3 separate regions of the Homo sapiens genome follow, and all the other regions are reported to be linked to region 3. The links are microRNA targets in miRTarBase. Many come from high-throughput screens and were not tested one by one. Region 3 holds a microRNA gene; each other region holds the end of a gene's coding sequence.
Evidence for each region. The annotated mature microRNA hsa-miR-4510 reads UGAGGGAGUAGGAUGUAUGGUU and lies in region 3 at 4,719-4,740, shown strand. An mRNA with a match to its seed (bases 2 to 7 or 8) in the 3' UTR can be bound and repressed. Matches are read on the target gene's strand: a 7mer-m8 pairs with bases 2 to 8, a 7mer-A1 pairs with bases 2 to 7 and ends in A, and an 8mer does both.

Region 1: miRTarBase lists KCTD2 as a target of hsa-miR-4510. Seed matches in the 3' UTR shown: 7mer-m8 at 1,469-1,475.
Region 2: miRTarBase lists ZDHHC3 as a target of hsa-miR-4510. Seed matches in the 3' UTR shown: 7mer-m8 at 1,586-1,592, 7mer-A1 at 4,080-4,086, 7mer-A1 at 4,930-4,936 and 8mer at 5,375-5,382.

Annotation. Positions count from the first base shown.
Region 1 is chr17:75,061,733-75,068,930 of GRCh38, forward strand. It overlaps KCTD2 (potassium channel tetramerization domain containing 2), which reads left to right. Exons shown (of 6, transcript NM_015353.3): 5 at 388-513; 6 at 1,286-4,154. The coding sequence ends at 1,315. Among named protein-coding and RNA genes, the nearest start is that of KCTD2, 18 kb to the left of the region's middle. RefSeq lists an enhancer at 6,100-6,169.
Region 2 is chr3:44,920,245-44,927,442 of GRCh38, reverse strand. It overlaps ZDHHC3 (zDHHC palmitoyltransferase 3), which reads left to right. Exons shown (of 7, transcript NM_001135179.2): 7 at 596-7,198. The coding sequence ends at 754. Among named protein-coding and RNA genes, the nearest start is that of TGM4, 49 kb to the right of the region's middle.
Region 3 is chr15:35,922,145-35,929,342 of GRCh38, forward strand. It overlaps MIR4510 (microRNA 4510), which reads left to right and starts at 4,712; the gene lies at 4,712-4,779. All of the region lies in intron 1 of LOC105370766 (a long non-coding RNA gene), which reads left to right.

The sequences.
Region 1 (7,198 bases), not on the chromosome of region 3:
TCTAGGGCTTCTGCTGATAGAGGAGCCAGCTGTGTGTGTGACTGAGGCAAATGTCCATTTTGTTGGCAGATGCGTTCTGTCTTCCCTTGCTGTGCTCGACGGGGCGTGGGCATGTTAATCCTGCCGCTGACGGGGGGGGACTTCAGAGCTTGGGTGAGGGGACAGTGGAGCTCATACTCTTCCTCCTGGGGAGGCCTCACCAATGATGCCCTGATGAAGAACAGGCCCATTTCTCCCCGGGGGCTTTGGTAGTCACAGAGAACTCATATAAAGAGTTAAACCTTTGATAACTTAAAAGTTCAGTCGGAAGAGGGGTGATTTGTGTAGCACTTTCGAAAGTATGTTAAGATTGCCACATGAATGTTCACTGTATTCTTGGTTCATCAGCTCATCAGCATCGGATCTTCCTATAACTACGGCAATGAGGATCAGGCAGAATTCCTCTGTGTTGTCTCCAGAGAACTAAATAATTCTACCAATGGCATCGTCATAGAGCCGAGCGAAAAGGCGAAGGTAAGGAGCCCCTTCCCTGGGCAGTTGCCTCTGGCTTGCTTGTTCGCACCCCCTCCGTGGGCTTTTCCTGAACTCTTGCTCCTCACTTCTTCCCTGGCCTTCTAGAGCCAGCGTTGCATTTTCCCCTCGTTTTGTTATTTTTGACTGTTGTAATTTAATTGGGATTTACGGAGCACTGACAGGTGTTTTTAGTTAGAAAATATGAACCTAAAAAGGGTAGACTTTCTCCATCCTCTGCCAAATCAATGAAAAAGAAAAGCTGGTTGCCACTAATTACTACAGGGTAGGATTTCTGAACTCAGACTTGGAAGGTATTTTGATTTATTCTTTAAAACTGTGCTTTTTTCACTGCCTCAGGAGAAAAGGGTGTTTTCTTACCTTGGTGACCTTTACCTCCCTTAAGTTCCTGGAAAACTGTTTCTTTTCCCTCCACTGTGCACCCCCCTCACCCCCAACACACACACACACACACACACACACACACACACACACACACACAGCTTCTAAATCGTGGATACCAGGTAAGCTGGAACCACTTCCTTTCAGTTGGCAAAGCTTTGGTCCAACAGCATATAAGCTTTAGACCCAGCTGTGCCCAGCAAGAGAGTGTTTCGCACCAGAAGCACTGCGGGTGAGGCTGCGGCTGCACCCCTGCTTGCTTCCTGGGATGACAGGACCATCATGCCACTCATCGGGTCCAGTGGAAAGCATCCCCCGACATCTCTGTCTTTCCCTCAGCAGCCTCAGCCTCTCCCCCATCTCCAACTTTCAGATTCTTCAGGAGAGAGGATCGCGGATGTAAACTAAGACCCCGAAAACTCCAGACCTTCAGGAGAGCAGTCAGCAGAGCCCCTCTGTGAAGTGAAACCTCACTCCTGTCCAGTGACCGAGCCACTGCAAAGCACAGCTGATCCTGGCCCCCTGTGAAGAAGTGTTCTGGTCAAAACTAAAGGAACTCCCTCCCCACCTGCAGGACTCCGAAGACAGTGCGACTTCTGGCTGCAGAATACCTTTTCAGAAACCTGCTTTCATTTGCTTAGCCAGTATTAGAACAGATCTTTACAACAGCAGCTGGGCTGGGTTCCCAGTCGGAGCCTTTCGGGGATCTGGGGGATGAGGGCGGAAGGCCTAGCTCCTTGGAAATGGCCTGTACTTTAAGGACGCTGGAGCCAAGAGGATTGTTCCCGTGCCGTGCCATGGTTTCACCCTATGTGTGCCACAATGGACGTTAGCAGCTGCTTCGGAACACCGTCCCTCCTATGCACCCTCCAAGACGTGCAGCAGATGCAAAGGGTTCTAGCTGCAGTTTGTCGAATTGAGGTTTTAGGTAAAGCATAGAGTTGCCAGAGTACCCCGCATTCCCATGAATAGAGCCTCCAAGGAAAGGGAGGATGGGGTGTCCTTTGTTGTGGTTGGAGGTTGGTGATCATTGCTCTGGATTTGGGGCTCCCGGCTGCCACCACATGCAGCTTTGCCTCACCTTTCTCCAGCAGCCGGGACCCTCTGGAGAGCTTGTTTTCCCTCCAAGAAGAGGTTTGAGACAGGCGGCATCCTGCACTGAGTCAGACAAGTGGGAGCTGTAGGAACTGCACCTGCAGCCTCTTCTTACTCCCCATTGACCCTGTCTTCCTTCCCTGGCTTTTTCAACTGGACCAAAGATGAAGGCACTTATGGACCCTTTGATGGCTTGGAGTGGGGAAGGCTGTTTCTTTGAAAGTTGCCAAATGTGTTATGTTGTGTCTCAGAGAGAGTTATTTCTGTGACTCTCTTGGAAATGCCTTGACTGAATGTGCAATATTTGTGTCTCTTGGTTTCTAACCTTGGCGGACCTGCTCCCCTCTGTACTGTCCCCAGTGGTATGTATGTATGTGCTAGGCAGTCTGGGGACCCCCTGTGTCTCTGACCACCCCCCTGACCCCCGCCATTACTTTCTTTTCTGGAGTGCCATGCTGGCGAGGATCCGGATGCGGCAGCACCCTCTTTCGGGCTGCATCCACAGAGTTTGTGTCCACACTTTCTCTCCGAGCATGTGGGTCTCGCTGAGCAGTCATGGAATGCGGTAGAGCCAGGGGACCCTGTCTGCCCCGAATAACTTTCAGTAGTATGGCAGATGGCACAGAGAAAGGGAAGGGGCTCTGGGGACTTCTCCTTCTATGAAAGCCTCCTCGAGCCAGGTGCTCCTGGGCACCTTCAGAAGTGATGTCCTGTGTGCTCCACAGCTCACCTGCTTGCCAAGGTACGTCTGGGTAGTAGTTTCTGGAAATGACTGCAGACTGTGCCAAATGTCTTTTGAGCTTCTGACCTGACCATGCCCAGATGGCATAACTTTTCCCTAGGACCCTCAGTCTCCTTGTTTCTCTGTATCTGTAGCATAGCATAGAACCCGGTATACAGGGGTTTCTGCTGACACATCAACGTCTACACACCTATGCGCCACATTTTACAGCTGTAAAGTGTTAGATGAACTGCCGTCCTCAGTAAAAGCAGCCACCCCTTCAAGAGTCACAGGCATCCATCCAGTCGTATCTTTCAGAGAAAAAAAAAGTTAGATGTAGCCAAGGAAAGTAGTGATCACGGGAAGGACTGCTCTGAGCCGGGTAGGATGGAGGACTTTGGAAGAGGCGCTCCTTGGCCAGGTCCAATGAGTAACATCAGACTGACAGAGGAAAAGCAGCTTGGTTTGCGGCCTTGTGCCCAGTCTCGTTGAGGCGCTTGTCCCTGTCTGCTTTCCTGGGGCATGCCTGATCAGCGTGGGCTGGAGCTCCTAGACCAACCCCAGCTTTCTCACCAGGTTCAGCAAGGAGGCCTGGGGGTCAGACACCAATGTTGAGCACCTCCTGAGGGCGCCGTTTCCTTCATTCCTCTTAGATTCCATAGTTGCCGCCATGAAAAGACTGCTCTTGAGCCCCAAGGCACAGGCACGTGCTCTGGGAAATAGACAGGAGTGGTATTTCCGCCCTCTCGGAGGGCTGGTGTTCACCAAGTTTCCCTCCTCGCTGCAACCCAATGACACCTGTATTGTTCCAGCGCTCCAGGACTCTGGGTTCTTAAGATTTCTGGGAGCGTTGTTCACCCACCCCCTTTAGGAACCAGGCTGGTGTTCTTGCTTGAAAGCGTTGTGCCCTCTGAGTGTCTGGCTGATCACATCAGAGAGGTCTGCGTGGCAGTTTGGGGCTGTCACGTGACCAGTGACCCACACTCTCTGCTGCCCAGTACTGCCAAGTGGGGAGGGTCCTGCCTTTTTCTCTGCCCCAGGTCTGGGACGCAGGTGATGCCAGCCAGGCCCAGGAGTGCCCAGCATCCCCCAACTGATGACACAGTAGCACTGATTCTGTCTTTTCCTCAGAATCTGGCCTTTTTCCATGGCAATGAGGTGGGGCCCAGCCTCCTCTAAAGTGACTTTGTTTCTGCACAGTTGTAACTGCTCTTGGGGATGTCAGTGAGGCTGGGAGCAGGGAGCCACGGGATGCTGAGAGAGGAGGCCCGAGAGGACACCCCACCCTCCAGCGTGGCCTTTGATCCAGACTTAGGGACGAGGCTGTCACTGGTGGGCACCCTCTGTTCCTGTTTGTGTGTTTGAATAGTCTGAAATGCTGTGACTTTTTTTGTGTGAATAAAGATATGAAACTTCTGAATCTCAAGAACTGTGGTGTGTTTTCCATTACTGCAGTCTCCTGGTTCCCACTGTCACTTCCTGTCGATGGTTCTCACATGGGTTTCAGGAGATGACTTAACTACCTTTCCTACCAGGACAGCTGACTAAGTCCTTTTCTCCTGCTACTGAAACCACCAAAGGGGGTGTTGGGCCTTCTCCCTCCTCCCTTTCATTTTACTGAATCTGAAAAGACCCAGAGAATGCAGAGAAACAGAAGGTGGGACGGATGGGCTGCCCACCAGAGAGCTGGAAAGAGACAAGGGGAGGAGTGTGAGATTTTTTTTTTTTTTTTTTTTCCCCGAGATGGAGTCTCGCTCTGTCACCCAGGCTAGAGTGTAGTGGTGCAATCTCGGCTCACTGCAACCTCTGCCTCCCATGTTCAAGCAATTCTCCCTCGGCTTCCTGAGTAGCTGGGATTACAGGCGCCTGCCTGCGCGCCTGGCTAATTTTTGTATTTTTAGTAGAGACAGTATTTTGCTGTGTTGGCCAGGCTGGTCTCGAACTCCGACCTCAGGTGATCCTCCCGCCTCAGCCCCCCAAAGTGCTGGGGTTACAGGCATGAGCCACCATCCCCGGCCGTGAGATGGTTTTTAAGGGACAAGTCTTTCTGGAAGAGAGTGAGTGACTAGGTACAAGGAAGAGGATGAGTGAGGAACGTTTGGTGACAACCAACAAACAAGTATTGATCACTTCAGCATCAGGCGGGGCATGGGAAACTCAGAAGGTGTTAGTCCCTTCCAGACAGCACTTTCAGGTAGGGAGACAAAATGGACTCATACAGCTTAGTGAACAGGATGCGTGGGTGCATCCGTCAGGGTCCAATTGAGACCACAGCAGTTGTTAACTGGTAGTGGAGAAAGGAAAGGGCAGGAGTGGACACTGAGGCATCACAATGTAGGGATTGCAGGGTGCAGTCCTCACTCCTGGGACCTGAGAACAGTGGGAAGACATTGGGATTATTAAAGTGGAGATTTGGCCGGGCGCGGTGGCTCACACCTGTAATCTCAGCTCTTTGGGAGGCCAAGGCAGGCGGATCACCTGAGGTCAGGAGTTCGAAACCAGCCTGACTAACGTGGAGAAACCCCATCTCTACTAAAAAATACAAAATTAGCCGGACCAGCTACTCGGGAGGCTGAGGCAGGAGAATCACTTGAACCTGAGAGGTGGAGGTTGTGGTGAGCCGAGAGCACGCCATTGCACTCCAGCCTGGGCAACAAGAGCAAAACTCCGCCTCAAAAAAATAAAAGGGCTGGGCGCAGTGGCTCACGCCTGTAATCCCAGCACTTTGGGACGCCGAGGCGAGCGGATCACGAGGTCAGGAGATCTAGACTATCCTGGCCAACATGGTGAAACCCCGTCTCTACTAAAAATATAAAAATTAGCTGGGCATGGTGGCAGGTGCCTGTAATCCCAGCTACTCTACTCGGGAGGCTGAGGCAGGAGAATGGCTTGAACCCGGGAGGCAGAGGTTGCAATGAGCAGAGATCACGCCACTGCACTCCAACCTGGTGACAGAGCGAGACTCAGTCTCAAAAAAAAAAAAAAAAAAAAAAGATTCACCTGCACTTTGGGAGGCCCAAGCTGGGAGGATTGCTTGAGCCCAGGAGTGTGAGATCAGCCTGGGCATCGTGGTGAGACTCTGTCTCTATGTAAAATTAAATCTAAAAATAAAATAAGGCCAAGTGTGGTGGCTCACACCTGTAATCCCAGCACTTTGGGAGGCCGAGGCAGGCAGATCACTTGAAGTCAGATGTTTGAGACCAGCCTGGCCAACATGGTGAAACCCTGTTTCTACTAAAAATACAAAAATTAGCCGGGCATGGTGGCACATGCTTGTAATCCCAGCTACTTGGGTGGCTGAGGCACGAGAATTGCTTGAACCCGGGAGGTGGAGGTTGCAGTGGGCTGAGATCACACCACTGCACTCCAACCTGGGTGACAGAGATTGTGTCTCAAAATAAAATGGAGATTCAAGAGGAGGGGACCAATGGAGAAGGACGTGCTGGCCAGTGGCAGCTGCTGCCTCTCAGAGGGTAGAGAAACCACCAAGAAACCAGCACCACTCCTGGAATCAGCTATGCCAGCACACAGCAGTGTTCTGTGGTTTGGCTCACAACAGGAAATACATCGTCCCTCCTTTTTTTCTCTCGTCTTGCAGTCTCCCTCAGCCTGTCCTACCAGGTTGAGCTAGGAGGGGGAAAATGTGGCTCGGAGCAGAGTTCAGAGGGTGGGTTTGGGGCTGAGAGACAACAATGTGGTGACTGGCTCAGTCCACCTGTTTGGTTCCCCTCACATGTACATGCTTCTGCACATACTTGAACTTGCATAGGATGGTGAAAAATGCTGGGTGTGGTGGCTCATGCCTATAATCCCAGCACTTTGGGAGGCCAAGGCAGGTGGATCACTTGAGGTCAGGAGTTTGAGACCAGCCTGGCCAACATGATGAAACCCCGTCTCTACTAAAAATACAAAGAATTAGGCTGGGCGCGGTGGCTCACGCCTGTAATCCCAGCACTTTGGGAGGCCAAGGCGGGTGGATCACGAGGTCAGGAGATGGAGACCATCCTGGCTAACACGGTGAAACCCTGTCTCTACTAAAAATACAAAAAATTAGCTGGGCGTAGTGGTGGGCACCTGTAGTCCCAGCTACTCGGGAGGCTGAGGCAGGGGAATGGCGTGAACTCGGGAGGTGGAGCTTGCAGTGAGCCAAGATCGCGCCACTGCACTCCAGCCTGGGCGACAGAGCGAGACTCCGTCTCAAAAAAAAAAAAAAAAAAAAATTAGCTATGCGTGGTGGCGGGTGCCTGTAATCCCAGGTACTCTGGAGGCTGAGGCAGGAAAATCGCTTGAACTCAGGAGACAGAGGTTGCAGTAAGCCGAGATCATGCCATTGCGCTCCATCCTGGGCAACAAGAGCGAAACTCCGACTCGGAAAAAAAGAAAAAAAAACGTGGTGAAAAAACAACTTCATGCCTCCATGGAACAAGATACAACTACCCTTCTACAAGCAAAAATAATCTCTCCTTCCCT
Region 2 (7,198 bases), not on the chromosome of region 3:
CTCACCAGGCCCACTAAGCGGGGTGCTGCTTGATCCCCCAGGCTGGTGAGACACACAACGCCAGAGCAGTCATTTGATTTGTTACTTTTTTTTTGTCTGCAAGGTGGTCATGGTAGCTTCAAACTTCCTAGGAACCTATCCCAAATTAATGGCCATCATTGGTTATGATGATTGCGAGCTCCCCAACAGCTCTGAGGCCTCTCACGCCAAAGCCTTCATAGTACTCCATCCACAGCCCAGCACAGAGTTTCTGAAGAGTGCCTCTGCAGAGCTCAACAAGGGGCCAGGGCTGGAGAGACGCGCTCCTTATCTTAGCGACACACCCCGGCCTGGCATACTTACAAGCAGCAGTTTCTGCGCTGCTGATAGTGCTTCTTTTTCCCTCCCTTCTTGGAGGGACTTGTGAATGAGTGCCCACCAAAAAAAGGAGAAATTTTTTTAGTAACACTTTTTATGAGAAAGATATATTAGGTAGATAGCTTTGTTGCTTTAAAAAGGAAACATTTACTCCATTCACCTGTCGCTGCGGACATCCCTCCCCAGAAACCACAGCAATGCAGTGCTTGACTGAAAGTATGATTGTTCTTGTTTTCAGGGAATAGAACAATTGAAAAAGGAAGAGAGAAGATGGGCTAAAAAAACAAAATGGATGAACATGAAAGCCGTTTTTGGCCACCCCTTCTCTCTAGGCTGGGCCAGCCCCTTTGCCACGCCAGACCAAGGGAAGGCAGACCCGTACCAGTATGTGGTCTGAAGGACCCCGACCGGCATGGCCACTCAGACACAAGTCCACACCACAGCACTACCGTCCCATCCGTTCTCATGAATGTTTAAATCGAAAAAGCAAAACAACTACTCTTAAAACTTTTTTTATGTCTCAAGTAAAATGGCTGAGCATTGCAGAGAAAAAAAAAAGTCCCCACATTTTATTTTTTAAAAACCATCCTTTCGATTTCTTTTGGTGACCGAAGCTGCTCTCTTTTCCTTTTAAAATCACTTCTCTGGCCTCTGGTTTCTCTCTGCTGTCTGTCTGGCATGACTAATGTAGAGGGCGCTGTCTCGCGCTGTGCCCATTCTACTAACTGAGTGAGACATGACGCTGTGCGTGGATGGAATAGTCTGGACACCTGGTGGGGGATGCATGGGAAAGCCAGGAGGGCCCTGACCTCCCACTGCCCAGGAGGCAGTGGCGGGCTCCCCGATGGGACATAAAACCTCACCGAAGATGGATGCTTACCCCTTGAGGCCTGAGAAGGGCAGGATCAGAAGGGACCTTGGCACAGCGACCTCATCCCCCAAGTGGACACGGTTTGCCTGCTAACTCGCAAAGCAATTGCCTGCCTTGTACTTTATGGGCTTGGGGTGTGTAGAATGATTTTGCGGGGGAGTGGGGAGAAAGATGAAAGAGGTCTTATTTGTATTCTGAATCAGCAATTATATTCCCTGTGATTATTTGGAAGAGTGTGTAGGAAAGACGTTTTTCCAGTTCAAAATGCCTTATACAATCAAGAGGAAAAAAAATTACACAATTTCAGGCAAGCTACGTTTTCCTTTGTTTCATCTGCTTCCTCTCTCACCACCCCATCTCCCTCTCTTCCCCAGCAAGATGTCAATTAAGCAGTGTGAATTCTGACTGCAATAGGCACCAGTGCCCAACACATACAGCCCCACCATCATCCCCTTCTCATTTTATAAACCTCAAAGTGGATTCACTTTCTGATAGTTAACCCCCATAAATGTGCACGTACCTGTGTCTTATCTATATTTTAACCTGGGAGACTGTTGTCCTGGCATGGAGATGACCATGATGCTGGGGTTACCTCACAGTCCCCACCCTTTCAAAGTTGACATATGGCCATCCCATTGGCCAGAATCCACAGACACACCTAAGCCTGTGGCACTGGGACAGAATAGATTTTCCATTTGAGAGGCACTTCCTGTGTCAGTCTTGTTTGAAGGAGGTGGTGATGGTGGATAGAGGTGAAGGAGGTAGGGAGTGCCCTCCAAGTGCAAAAATAACAAATATGATTATTGACCATCGGGGAATTCTCACACATTGATTTGTTTTTTAAGCAATTGCCAGAAACCCCCTTTTTTAGCTTTTGCTTGGGGTGGGGGTAGGAGTTAAGGTTTATTCAATCCTGTCCTGGGTAGGGCGAAAGTTAATCTAGCCATGTGATTTTTCAGAAAAGTAAGTGGAACATGCTGCCACTTTTCAATTCTGTCAGTGCTTCCACATGGAAACAAAATGCAATAAAATTTTTCCAAAACCTGTTCTGATTTAGCTCTCTCTTGAGGTGTTACCCTTAGTGGGAGGCCGACTATCCACAATCTACTTGAGTTTTCTCTGGTTGGGTGTTTGTTTCATTGCTCTGTCTCTTGAATGAGGATACTTTATTTTTTTTGTTTTAAAATGCATTTATGGTCCCTCTCTTGAACCAGCTTGCCCCACCAGGCCTCTTTCCTTTGCTTTCTGCAGCCTGAATCAATTCCTTTGTGCTGATGGGCTCTCCTAAGAGCTTTCCTGAGTCAGTTAACTTTACCTCGTGTCTACGGTGCTATTCATGCGATACGGGCGAGGCTGAGATGCTAAGATTAAAAAGAAAAGAATGCTGTTTTAGATCAAGTTGATAGCATTTGTTTTCCATATGCTTTTTTAAAATTTTTTCATAACATACAGCTCAGTTAGGTGTATGAAAGAAGTGTTATTGTATTAAATAACTAGAGCAGGGCTACAGCTCTGGCCCTCCCCTAGGGGGAAGAGATTGGTAATACTCCATCTTCCAGGGCATTTTTTAAAGTGAGCCAGGTTAGCTCTTTTCCCCTGGCATTTCTCAGGAATGCAGTAGATAGTGCTGAAGATGCACTGACTTTTTTTTAGTCCTAAAAATAGAAACTCCTCCTTTAAAGCTGTGCATACTATGCTTATCTTTCCAATAGAGTGGGGTTCCTTCAGATATCCTATAGGATTCTGCCTCTGGTTTTGTATAGGCCTTGGCTAGAAAGAGTCAATGTTTCTGAGCTCTCAAACCAGTTGCTCTCAGAAGATAGGAATACCCCAAGGTTCCTGGCATTTTTCCTATTTCATTTTTGTTCAGACTGATATTTTGCCAAGAGCACAATGACTGAGGAATGTAGCCATCATTTGCAGGGTAGTGATTGGTTCCCAGCCTGGCTTCCACACAGGACAGGAAGGGAAAGCATCCCTGAGCTCTCCTCAGTATTTCCGGATGTAATGAAAGAGGACATCTTTCTACACAAAGTCAGCCCCAACTTTTGGCTTGGTCACAGGAGTTCTGATAGTACTGTTTGGTGCACTCATGGGAAATTGAACCAGTCGTAGCCACAGTCTTTCAGAGCCTGGGCTCTGGGGAGTGGAAGTGAAAAATAAAGATGTGGCTTGTTGGATTGTGATCCCCAGCTTGCTTTCCTTCTGTCAACTCTGTCAGGTTTGTGTTCATAGCAACTAGACTGAATATGCAAAAGGCTTAGATCCAAGCAAATCTATAATCTATGCATATTTGCATGGGCTTGGTAATATCATGTACACAAAACACATTTGGGTAGAAGTGCATGTGCTAAATCTCCTTTTAGTCCCACCATTTTGTCTTCTTCATACTGTACTTCCTCTTTTTTGTTTGAGACAAGGTCTTGCTCTGTCACCCAGGCTGGAATGCAGTGGCACAATTAGAGCTCACTGCAGCCTTGAACTCCTGGGCTCAAGTGATTCTTGTGCCTTGGCCTCCTGAATATCCAGGGCTACAGGCACGTACTACCATGCCTGGCTAATTTTTTTGTTTTTTAATAGAGTCAGGGTCTCACTGTGTTGCCCTAGCTAGTCTCAAATGCCCGGCCTCCAGCAATTTTCCTGCCTTAGCCTCCCAAAGTCCTGGGATTACAGGCGTGAGCCACTGGGCCCAGCCCTGTACTTCTTGAAAAAGCCCCAAGTATTAGCTTTTGCTCATCTGGCTAGGCCACTTAAATAGTTAGAATCCACCGTCCCCTAATGCAGAAACCGTTTAGGTGAGGTAAATTAACAAACATTTTAAGCCGGGCGCGGACACTTCTCACTGTGGACATCCCTCACGCCTGTAATCCCAGCACTTTGGGAGGCCGAGGCGGGCAGATCACGAGGTCAAGAGATCGAGATCATCCTGGCTAACACGGTGAAACCCTGTCTCTACTAAAAATATAAAAAAATTAGCTGGGCGTGGTGGCAGGCGTCTGTAGTCCCAGCTACTTGGGAGGCTGAGGCAGGAGAATGGCGTGAACCCGGGAAGTGGAGCTTGCAGTGAGCCAAGATCGCACCACTGCACTCCAGCCTGGGCGACAGAGTGAGACTCCGTCTCAAAAAAAAAAAACAAACATTTTAAACATGTATGTGAGGTTGGCATTACACAGAAACTCCTCTCCGGGTGGGCTGGGATGGGCTTTCTCAGCCAGGCTAATGGGTTTTAAATTTCTCTCTTTTCAAGACTTGCAGTGCATCAGCTTAAAGGGTGAGCCAGCCAGTAGAGGGGAAGGCGCCCCACCTAGAAGGTGCCCTTAGATATCAAAGAAATGTGAAAAGAGAAAGATTTTGCTAGAATCCTCCTCAAAGGTGTTCTTGAGGTTGCCAGACCAGCAACGTCAACATCAGCATCACCTGAGAACTTGTTAGAAATGCACATTCTCGGTCCCCACCCCAGGCTACCGAACCAGAAACCGAGCGGGGCCCAGCAGCCCGTGTCTTAACAGCCCTCCAGGTGATTCTGACTATCAAGTTTGAGAATCCAGTTGGGGCTAGCAGGAGTCCCCCCTCAGGTGGTCCCTGATGCCTGCTGGTGATATGGGTCTTGTGTGCTGCTGGGCTCAGCATAGTGCAGTTGGGGTGTGCTGATTGTGAGACAGGCACGTGTTCCCTCCGCGGAGAAGCCACTGAGACTGCCTTCCCTCATAAGCTGCGGCCTCCCCAACAAACAACTGCCAAGACATCAAAGAAAGTCTGTATGAAGCAGATCCAAATTATTAGCCTGCCCACCACTCCTTGTGCATCTCATCAGTGGAACCCATCTCTAGACCAAGGGCCCTTTGGGTGAAGAAGCAGCCCGGAAGGGAAAGAGAAAAGAGTAGAACCAAGGGACCTCCAGATGGGAGCGGCGGCCGGTGAGTAGTCTAGAGCCAGGGGCATTGTAGCAGCCTGGATACATGACCTGAACACGTCTTGACCTTTGCTTTCTACGTGTGGGTTTCAACACCCATGTGGCTTTTTCTTGTATTCTTTAAATATGTATCTGGCTTAGGATCACCTCATAGAAGAGAAAGAATTCACAGTGAAGCAGAAACAAGCCACTGACCAGCGTACTCCCAACCTGAACCTTCTTTTTCTCACCCTCTCCCTCAAGTAAACATCTTGCTGACTTGAGCAGTGTGATTGCCGTAGCAAAGCAGAGTGGCCCCCAGGGATCCCGCTCTGTTGGGCCCACAGGAGGAGCCGATGAAGCTGATCCAAGGAGTGAGGACAAGCGCTGCAGAGGGACGTTCGCTAAAAGCCTTCTAGGGGCCGCACATGCTCTAACACGGACATAAGGATGCCCTGAATTTCTGCAGCTGAGGCCATATAGTCTGGTGACCAAGTATTTGGGTCCTGGCTTCAGTCTTTGGTTGAAATGTCTGCTTGGCTACTTATTACCGCACCTACTACCAAAATATGACCTTGAGCAGTAACTTCTTTAAGCCTCAGTTTTTTCATCTGAAAACGGGAATGATAATCTAAATCACAAAGTTAATGGAAGGATTAAATGAGGGTGATGAATAGGAATGTATAGCGTCTGGCCCTGGTATGGCTTTATAAATGTTAGCTGTGTTGGAGCTGTGCTTTTCAAACCATTGGTCACAGCCATTCATGGTTTGCAACCAGCATGTTTTTCAAGAAAAATGTTTAATGCATTACATATTGCAGGATAAGTATTGTTTTATGAAGCTTAGGGAGTTGTGTGTATATGTGTTCTGGAATGCAACAGAAAAATGTTTCCTCTTGTGGGTTACAATATAGAGGTATGAAATCTCTGATGAGGAGAGACAGTGTTATCTGGCCCGCTATGAAGAGACACATTTGCATAGGCTGCTCCCTGAGGCTCTGGCTTTCTACATCTGATGATACAGGGAGCAGGGAACAGCCTGTTCTCGTTCTGTGGGGCTCAGCTGAGTCTGTTCTGCACAGACTCTTCCTTCCTCGGGAGCCTTAGTCCTAATACATTCATTTTGGAGTGTTGGTGAGTTTGTTCACAGATCACAGCTCATGTGTCACCCAGACTGACCTGGGCCAAAAGGCCCATCACACACCCTGCAAGAGCTTCTGGTGTCGACTATGACCCCCTTACCAGGCATCAACCATTTTTGTTCGTTCTCTTGAGCCTGAAGCTACTATTACTGCTCCTCTGCAAACCTCAAGCTTAAGAACTTTGCCTGCAGGATCCCTTTAAATCCACACAAAACTCAAAATTGAGTCCTACCAGGAAAAAGCAGCCCTCAGCCCATTTTTATACATCGGATTTGTTTGCAATATTTTCTTTCTAGACTCAAAAGTCAACACTCCCTGAAAGTTTGTCGACTTTACTGCTGAAGACCTCTGGTAGACAGGCCAGGCTCTGTCTGGAATACTTTATGAGGTTGGTGAGGAGGTTGAGTATAATCCAAGAGTGCCTATCTGGGAGCATGCCACATGAATGGCAAATAATCATCCTGTGGGCTCTTGGCTTCATTCCCCTTCTCTCTGACTGAGCTCAGCCTGGGCACAGTGGTGATTTGCAGTAGAACTGGAAACCTGTTGGGCAGAAAAAAAGACACTAGTTCTGGTTCCAGTTCTGATACATAACAAGCTAGATGAGCCTTGGCCACCGTCATGGCCTCTTGGAACTTCTGTTTCTTCCCCATCTGCCAATCATCAATACTCATACCCACCTCCTCACAAGGAGGCCATAAAAACCTATGGTCATGGCTTTGAGTCCAAGTCAGTGTGGATGCAGCCAGTCTGTCATTTTTGGGTGTTTCCTCTGTAGCCGGGTCTGCCATATGGTGATGTCCCAGCTCTCGTGCTATGAAGTTAAAGCCTCTTTCTCAACAGGCTGCAGATGATCACCCAGGAAGAGAATGCAGAATGCCCAAAGCAAACCATCTCAGCTGGTCACTGCTTCTGTGCCAAGAAGGGAGGCCTGGC
Region 3 (7,198 bases):
GGAATTTTAAGATCAAAAGCTCTAGAGATGCATCTTTCTATTTTACCCGTGAAACTTAAGACAGCAAAAAGAATAACGAAACCAAAGGGTGACAGGCAAAGTTGGAAGCCTCAATGACAACTTTTATAATTTTTAGTTATAGCTCAGGAGAGAGATGGAACTTCTGCAAGATGGTATTTATAGATGAGAAGGCCAGGATATTTGTATTAGTAAGCTCAGAAAAGTATAGAAATATTCTAGAAGTCCCCTCTCTTCATCTGTCTGCTCATTACTTATTTTAGAAATAACAAATATCTATGATTTTGGCTGTGTAAATAAATGAGTAAGGGTTTGAAATCTTGTGATTCCAATATTTTTCACAATCCATTTGCACTATTTCAGGTAATTCCTTTCTTTATGTACAAGCAACCTCCACCACAGTGCCCTAAGGCACAATACGGTATAGCCATTCACACATGCACGGTCAACCTGGTTTCAGCCTATCAGAGCAAGATCAGGAAGGATTAGACAAATTTAGTTGTATACACTTACACAGGTTCAAAGCCAGTCTTATGCAGAGCTGGATAGGCAATTACCTATATGATGACATTTTATGTTACTACAGGACATAATGTCCAGGAAACAAAGGAATAGGAATTCTGTTTTTTGGTTACTGCCTTGGTTGAACATTAAAATTAGCATTGTTCTGTGCACTACCTTTGTTAATAAAAGTCCTAAGGAAGTTGTAATCATGGACATGTAGGACATTTGGGAAGTTTTGTGTAATGCAATAACTGAATGATTAGGGCAGGAGAAGGAATAATTACCAAATCCTTAATTTCTAGGCTGGTGGTACCCTTGATTTTACTTTTTGCAATTATATGTTTCAGAGAACATTGTTTAAACCATAGTGTTCAGATTTCTGTATTAAGATAAAAAAAGGGAAATTACATCTAGATGAGAATTGTAAGTAAGCATTAACTGTGAGTTATCATTTTCCTTACATTATCTCATTTGACTACTCAAACAATCTTACGAGATAGGTATTATCTCCATTGTTCAGATGAAAAGGTAGTCATAGAGATTAAATATTTATTAGAAGTCACACAACTAGTAAGCAGAAGTTGTGTGAACCTAGCTCTGTGGATGCAAAATAATGTACTGCTTTGCAAGACCTGTAGCATAATTTACTTATGTTCTATATGTGGGTAAAATTGTTACATTATCACTGGTAAAATACAAAACCAAATATAAAGAATAATTGCATTTTGATTTTTGGACCTGCCAAGACATACATCCTCAAACTCTTTTGCATCAGAAATGCCTGGGAGAATTGTTTTGTTTGTTTTGTAATTAAAATGCACCCTATTGTCTCTTCTTCCTTGATGATTGCCAAAAATTATAGTTTAAAAATACAACGAGGTGATATGAACATGTTTGAATGTTACCATTATATTTTTATTACACGTAAACAATACATTGTGTTTCCAAAATAATATACTCTAGAAAGTAAACTTTTCTTTCTTCTTTCCCATAAGTGACATCCTTCTGATATGCAGAGACTTTTAACTTGGGTACCAAACCATAATGGTACAAATAGAGGTATTTCAAGAAGTTGCTAAAATTGTTACATTGTAGAGCAGAATCTGATTTTGTGTACATGTTCCTACAGAAAATTCAGAACACATCTTAACCCCGTTATTCTTATTGTGTCACTTTAAAAGTTAGAGAATTGGTTTAGTAACAAACCTAGAAGTTTCCATCATATCCTCTTAAGCATCTGTGGTTCTTGCACTCAGCCATCTCAGCATGCTCATGCCAAAGCTCAAGACACGAGATCCTTCCAAATATGAAGAGTAAAATGAGGCTTATCACCTTCGTAAAGATTAATTATTTTTCAACCAATAAAACAGACTTTTTCTTTATCTAATGGGCTTCATCCATCATAGTACATGATAGATAGTTAATACTTTACTTTCAGGGAAACTGCAGCTTAGAGCAGTTTTACTAGTTCAGTTCAGACAGTGGTTTACCTCTAAACTTCTATAGCTAGGGCTAATAGTGTCTGATGAGCTCATCTGCCTGGAGAAAGAAAGAACAGACATAAGAAAGTGCTACCCCAAATACTTAAAATTGCCTTGCTGTGGATTTGAAACAACACAGGTTGTAAAAGCACAAAGTGCCAGACAGCTTACATACATCTTTTAGCACATTTCAAAGACAAAACAACATGTGCGGAATCAAAGGCAGGAAAATCATTATGTAAAATATCACCTTTCCCCAGTAAATGTTTTCTATTGAACTGCTGAAAATTCTTCTCAGTAAGGAAGATAGAAAGCCAGGGCAACCCCTCTGCAGGCACAGCAGAGTGAGGTCCACCCAAAAATTCTCCACTGCCATGGGCTGCAACCTTAAGACCCTGCATGACTTGTTAGAGATTTAGATTTATCTGGCTCTCTAGTGTCTTATTGCATAATTTCCATTACTTTATTACCCACCATTCGCCCTTCAATAGTTCTTTTCATGTGTTTTTTGTTGTGGCTTTGCTTATGTGGGACAGTCCATGTTACAAGTTTTCTCTATTATTTATATATGAAAGTCTCCTCATGAAAACACCATCATATATAGCAAAGCAAACTATATTAGAATTCCATAATAACATGGCTTTGTATAAATTCTGATACCCTCTTGGTCATAGTTATTCATAGGTCAAATGAAACAATGAACTAATTACACATTGATATACTAGACTGAGGCTGTGTTTCAACCAGGTTGACCTTGTCTGGGGAATACATGCAATCAGGGGCATGTAAGTCCCCTCTGAAATACAACTGAAGATGGTATGATCACCAATGATTGGAAAGGTAGGATCACTGGGAGAAGTCAAGGTTGAGTCTTGGATGTTACAACTAATGTCTATGATTTCCATAGTTCAGAATAAAACCAAGGATAGCGTATCAATCAGGACAACAATAGTCACTCCAGATAGGAGGAATTTTAATAGAGGGAGGTGCTGAGAAGCCAAACAAATGATAATAAGGCAACCCAGACATTACAGTAGCAAAAAGCCACTATCATCCCTATGTTTGAGAGTTAAAGGGAAAAGACTGTTATTGGATTGCCTGGCTCTGGGGCCACAGACAGAAGCCAAAACCATTTCAGGTCTGCCTGTCAGTAGCTTGAACCAGTAAGCAAAGGACACCTATCCAGATTTGCAGCCATAGAAGAGGTTGAAACCTGAGACTATCTGGTTTAAATTAACCTTTCTTGTTACTGGCAGCTACTAATAGATTGCACTTAATCAACTATCGCATCTCTCATAGAGAAGGAGTCATGACCATGTTTTCCTTATTTATTATGCCATCGTGCAGCGGAGAGTGACCCAGAGGTTTATTCTTCTTATGTGACAAGACTGATGAAATCAATCTCACACCATTTTACACTTGTATCTATTGTAATTTTTATACATATTAAAATAAATACCACACACCTGAATTAGGGTAAATGGCTTGCTTATTCGTCCTCTGAGGTGGGCTTTTGTTTTTCCTTACTAGAAAGTCTGAGCGTGTTTCGTTTCTCATATTTGTTTAAATAAAAAAGAAATTTTAATGATACCATGAATCCTCATGATCAGGGAAGAACGATGTGTCAGTTCACCTGATGACCTCACCAGCAAGTAACAGAAAACAAGCAAAATGACTCATACAATGAGGGCTTTGTTATCTTTATTGTCTGACAAGTCCTGTTGTATGTTCCAAGATCACTGACTTCAAGGGCTCAATGAATGGCTCAGGGATCCATTTCATTTCCACATTTTGTTCTGCCATCTTTGGAATGTTCGTGTTTGTCCTTACGTGGCCCCTCACATCCCCAAGTTACTCCAACCTTATATCCTCAACAATAACTTCCAGAGGTGAGAAGATAGACCATCTCTTCCTTATGTTCTTTCATAAAAGTCAGAAAAACTGTACTAGAAATCCACCCCAGACTTCCCCTCACATTTTACTGGACAGAATGACATTACATCATGGACAAGAGAATGGAATTTACATGAGTCATTTCAACCAGAGTTGATATGCACCTTCAGCTGAGAAGGGACTTAGTCTCCTTTGAAGGATATGGCCTACCAAGACTTGAACAAAATCAACTCTTACACAGCACTTACAACAAGGGAGGCACTATTCTAAGAGTTATTAAACATACATAAAGAGATATAGAAATGTGTATTAAATCATTTAATACAAAAATTATATGAGGTGGTTATTATCTATAACTTATCAAGATATTAAGTAACTTAAGGGCCAGGCACAGCGGCTCATGCCTATAATCCCAGTACTTTGGGAGGCAGTGGTGGGAAGATGGGTTGAGGCCAGGAGTTTGAGTCCATCCTGGGCAACATAGTGAAACCCCATATCTACAAAAAAAATTAAAAATTAACCAGGTGTGATTGTGTGGACCTGTAGTTCTAGCTACTCAAGAGGCTGAACCTGGAGGATCCTTCGAACCCAAGAGTTTGAGGGTGCAGTGAGCTATGGACATGCCAAAGCACTTCACCCTTGGTGAGACAGCAAGATAACCTTGTATTAAATAAATAAATTAATTAATTAATTAATTAATTAATTAATTAAGGTCACACTGTTATTCAGTAGTGACAGCAGGGTTGTAACTCAGGTGATCTGGCCCCAGAGTTGTTGCCTTTAAGATGAATACCAGGTTGCCTCTGTGGAATAGTGTGTATGTGAGGGAGTAGGATGTATGGTTGTTAGATAGACAACTACAATCTTTTCTCACAACAGACAGAGCCTGTCATTAAGTAGGCACTCAGAAATGTTCATGGAATAAGCAAAAAAAAAAAAAAAGAAGAAGAATGAATGAATGAATATACCCTTTGATAGCCTCCAATACAGTGTCTTGTATGTAATAGTCATTCAGTGGTTGCTTAGTTGATGGTGTCTCATTGTGTGTCTATTGCAGCACAATTTAAGTAGAGAATTTAGGATATGCTACAAACTGGTCTATCATTTTCCTTAAGATAAATGAGGGGTAATGCTCAGAGAGAGGGCAGTTACCCATGACTGAAGTGGGAGAGACTGACATTCAGGAGTTTGATTTGGGAAACCCTAGAATTCTAGGAAGTGATTGCTGTTTATAAAAATGCAAATTGGTCCTGTTTAAACTTGTCATTATAGAAAAACCTAGCAAGGCTCATATCCTATGCTAAACTCCGCTACAATCTCTATCCAGAAGATGTCTGACCATTTTATATTGTTTTCCAACCCTTTCTTGGTTTGTTCGCTGGAGAGAATCCATCTCATTTACCACAACTCCAAAATCCCCCTGTGTGGAACACAAGACACATCTATGTCCTGCTCACATTGTTTTCTTGAGAGCAGAGAGATGTCAATTGGCTTGGTCCTCTTTTATATGCAATTAGATACAGCTATCATATATTACCTTGTGACAGATATGCATTGTCTCATTCAATATTAAGTAGGGATCCACATGTAGCCATCCACAGTCGTAGACCTGGATATATCTTGTTTCTACTTGGAGAAATTCAATGAATGGCAACATGGATTTACAAATCAATATTAAGAGGTAATTATTCTGCTTACAAATAAATTTGTCAGCTTCCACATCTGTTAGCAGGTCAGAGATTATTTGAGTTCACATTAGAGTGAAATACATAGAAAAGAAACTTAAAGTTTGTATATTATAGAAGATCATTAGGAAATGCCTTCCTTTGACTCTAGAGCCAAAGGACTAATCTAACAATCAATGTCATCAATAACTTTCTCTACAGTATTTAATGTCAATTATTGATTCCCAGAAAAGCAAACCCTGTTCAAAATGTGTTATTTTGATTTATAAGCAATTCATTCACCATATTATTCTCCCTGACCCGCAGTAAGCAAATAGGCATCAAGCCCATGGTTTCCTAGTTATTAAGAATGATAATGTCTCTTACAGATTATCCAATCCAGACCTCTTGTTATATAGACACAGTTAGAAGGCCCAGTTACTATCCCAAGGCTACATAGCTAATAAAATATACAGCCAGAAGGAGAATTTTGGTCTAGAGCTCTTTCCTGTCCTCACAATTAAATAATCAATTTCTTTACATGTCAAAGTCACTACATCTTACAGTTCAGTGCTTACATAACTTTATACCATGCCTTAAATAATATTCCCAAAATACTTATTTGTATTCTTTATATCTGCTTTGATTCCAGAGTACAGAGAGCTCTTGGAGGATGTGATAGATCATATTTTCCAAAGATGGTCACAATATAATTTGCTACTTTACACACTCTTCTTCATTGTGATTTTGTCCTTACACCATTAGAAGTTTATTTTTCCAACCACTTTGAATCTGAGTAGGCCATGTGATTGCTCTATTCAATAATATACAACTGAGGTTCTGCATATGGCCCTTAAGTAGCCCAGCAACTCCTGATCCCTACATTTTGGAATATTTGCTCATAGGACATTTCTTCCAAGAACCCAGTCTCTGCAGTGAGAAGCAGGAACCATACAACAAAGCCGTGATTAGCTGCTCCAGCCTAGCTAAGCTTTCAAAAACTGACAGCTAGTATCAACTACCAGACATGTAAGCGTACCATATTGAACTTCTAGCCCAGCTGAGCTTTTGGGTGACTGCAGGCCTAGATGACAGCTGCCTGTAAGTGCTTGAGAGACCTCAGGTGAAAACCAACCAGTTGGGCACAATCAACCCCCTGGCCTTAAGAAATATTAAATAAGTTTTGTCTTAATTGCCTGAAGTTTTAAGGTGGTTTGTTAGACAGCAGTAGACAACTGGAACACAGCACTAGACAGGAGTTAGCAGTTGTGACTGCCCACAGATTCATGACATCGAGCCTCAGATGCACTCTCACCTCTGCCAAGCAAGCCTCTACTTCAAGCCTCACTGACTCTCATACGTACTGCTTACCTTGACAGATCCAGCTCTCCCACTCTTCCTATTAGCAAAACCTGTCAGGTTTGAAACTGATGTCTGGGTATGTGGAATTTTCAACAGAAATTCTAGGAAACTTCAACACTTCTTAACATAGAAAAAGAATGCTGTGTTTTTCCATATGGGTATCTCCCTTAGGTAACAAGGCTCAACAGAGGTCATAAAGCCCAAGAGCAAGTTAGATATAATGTTGACCTTTCCAGAAAGCACAGAGCTAAATTTAATACTCAACCTGGTAACTAT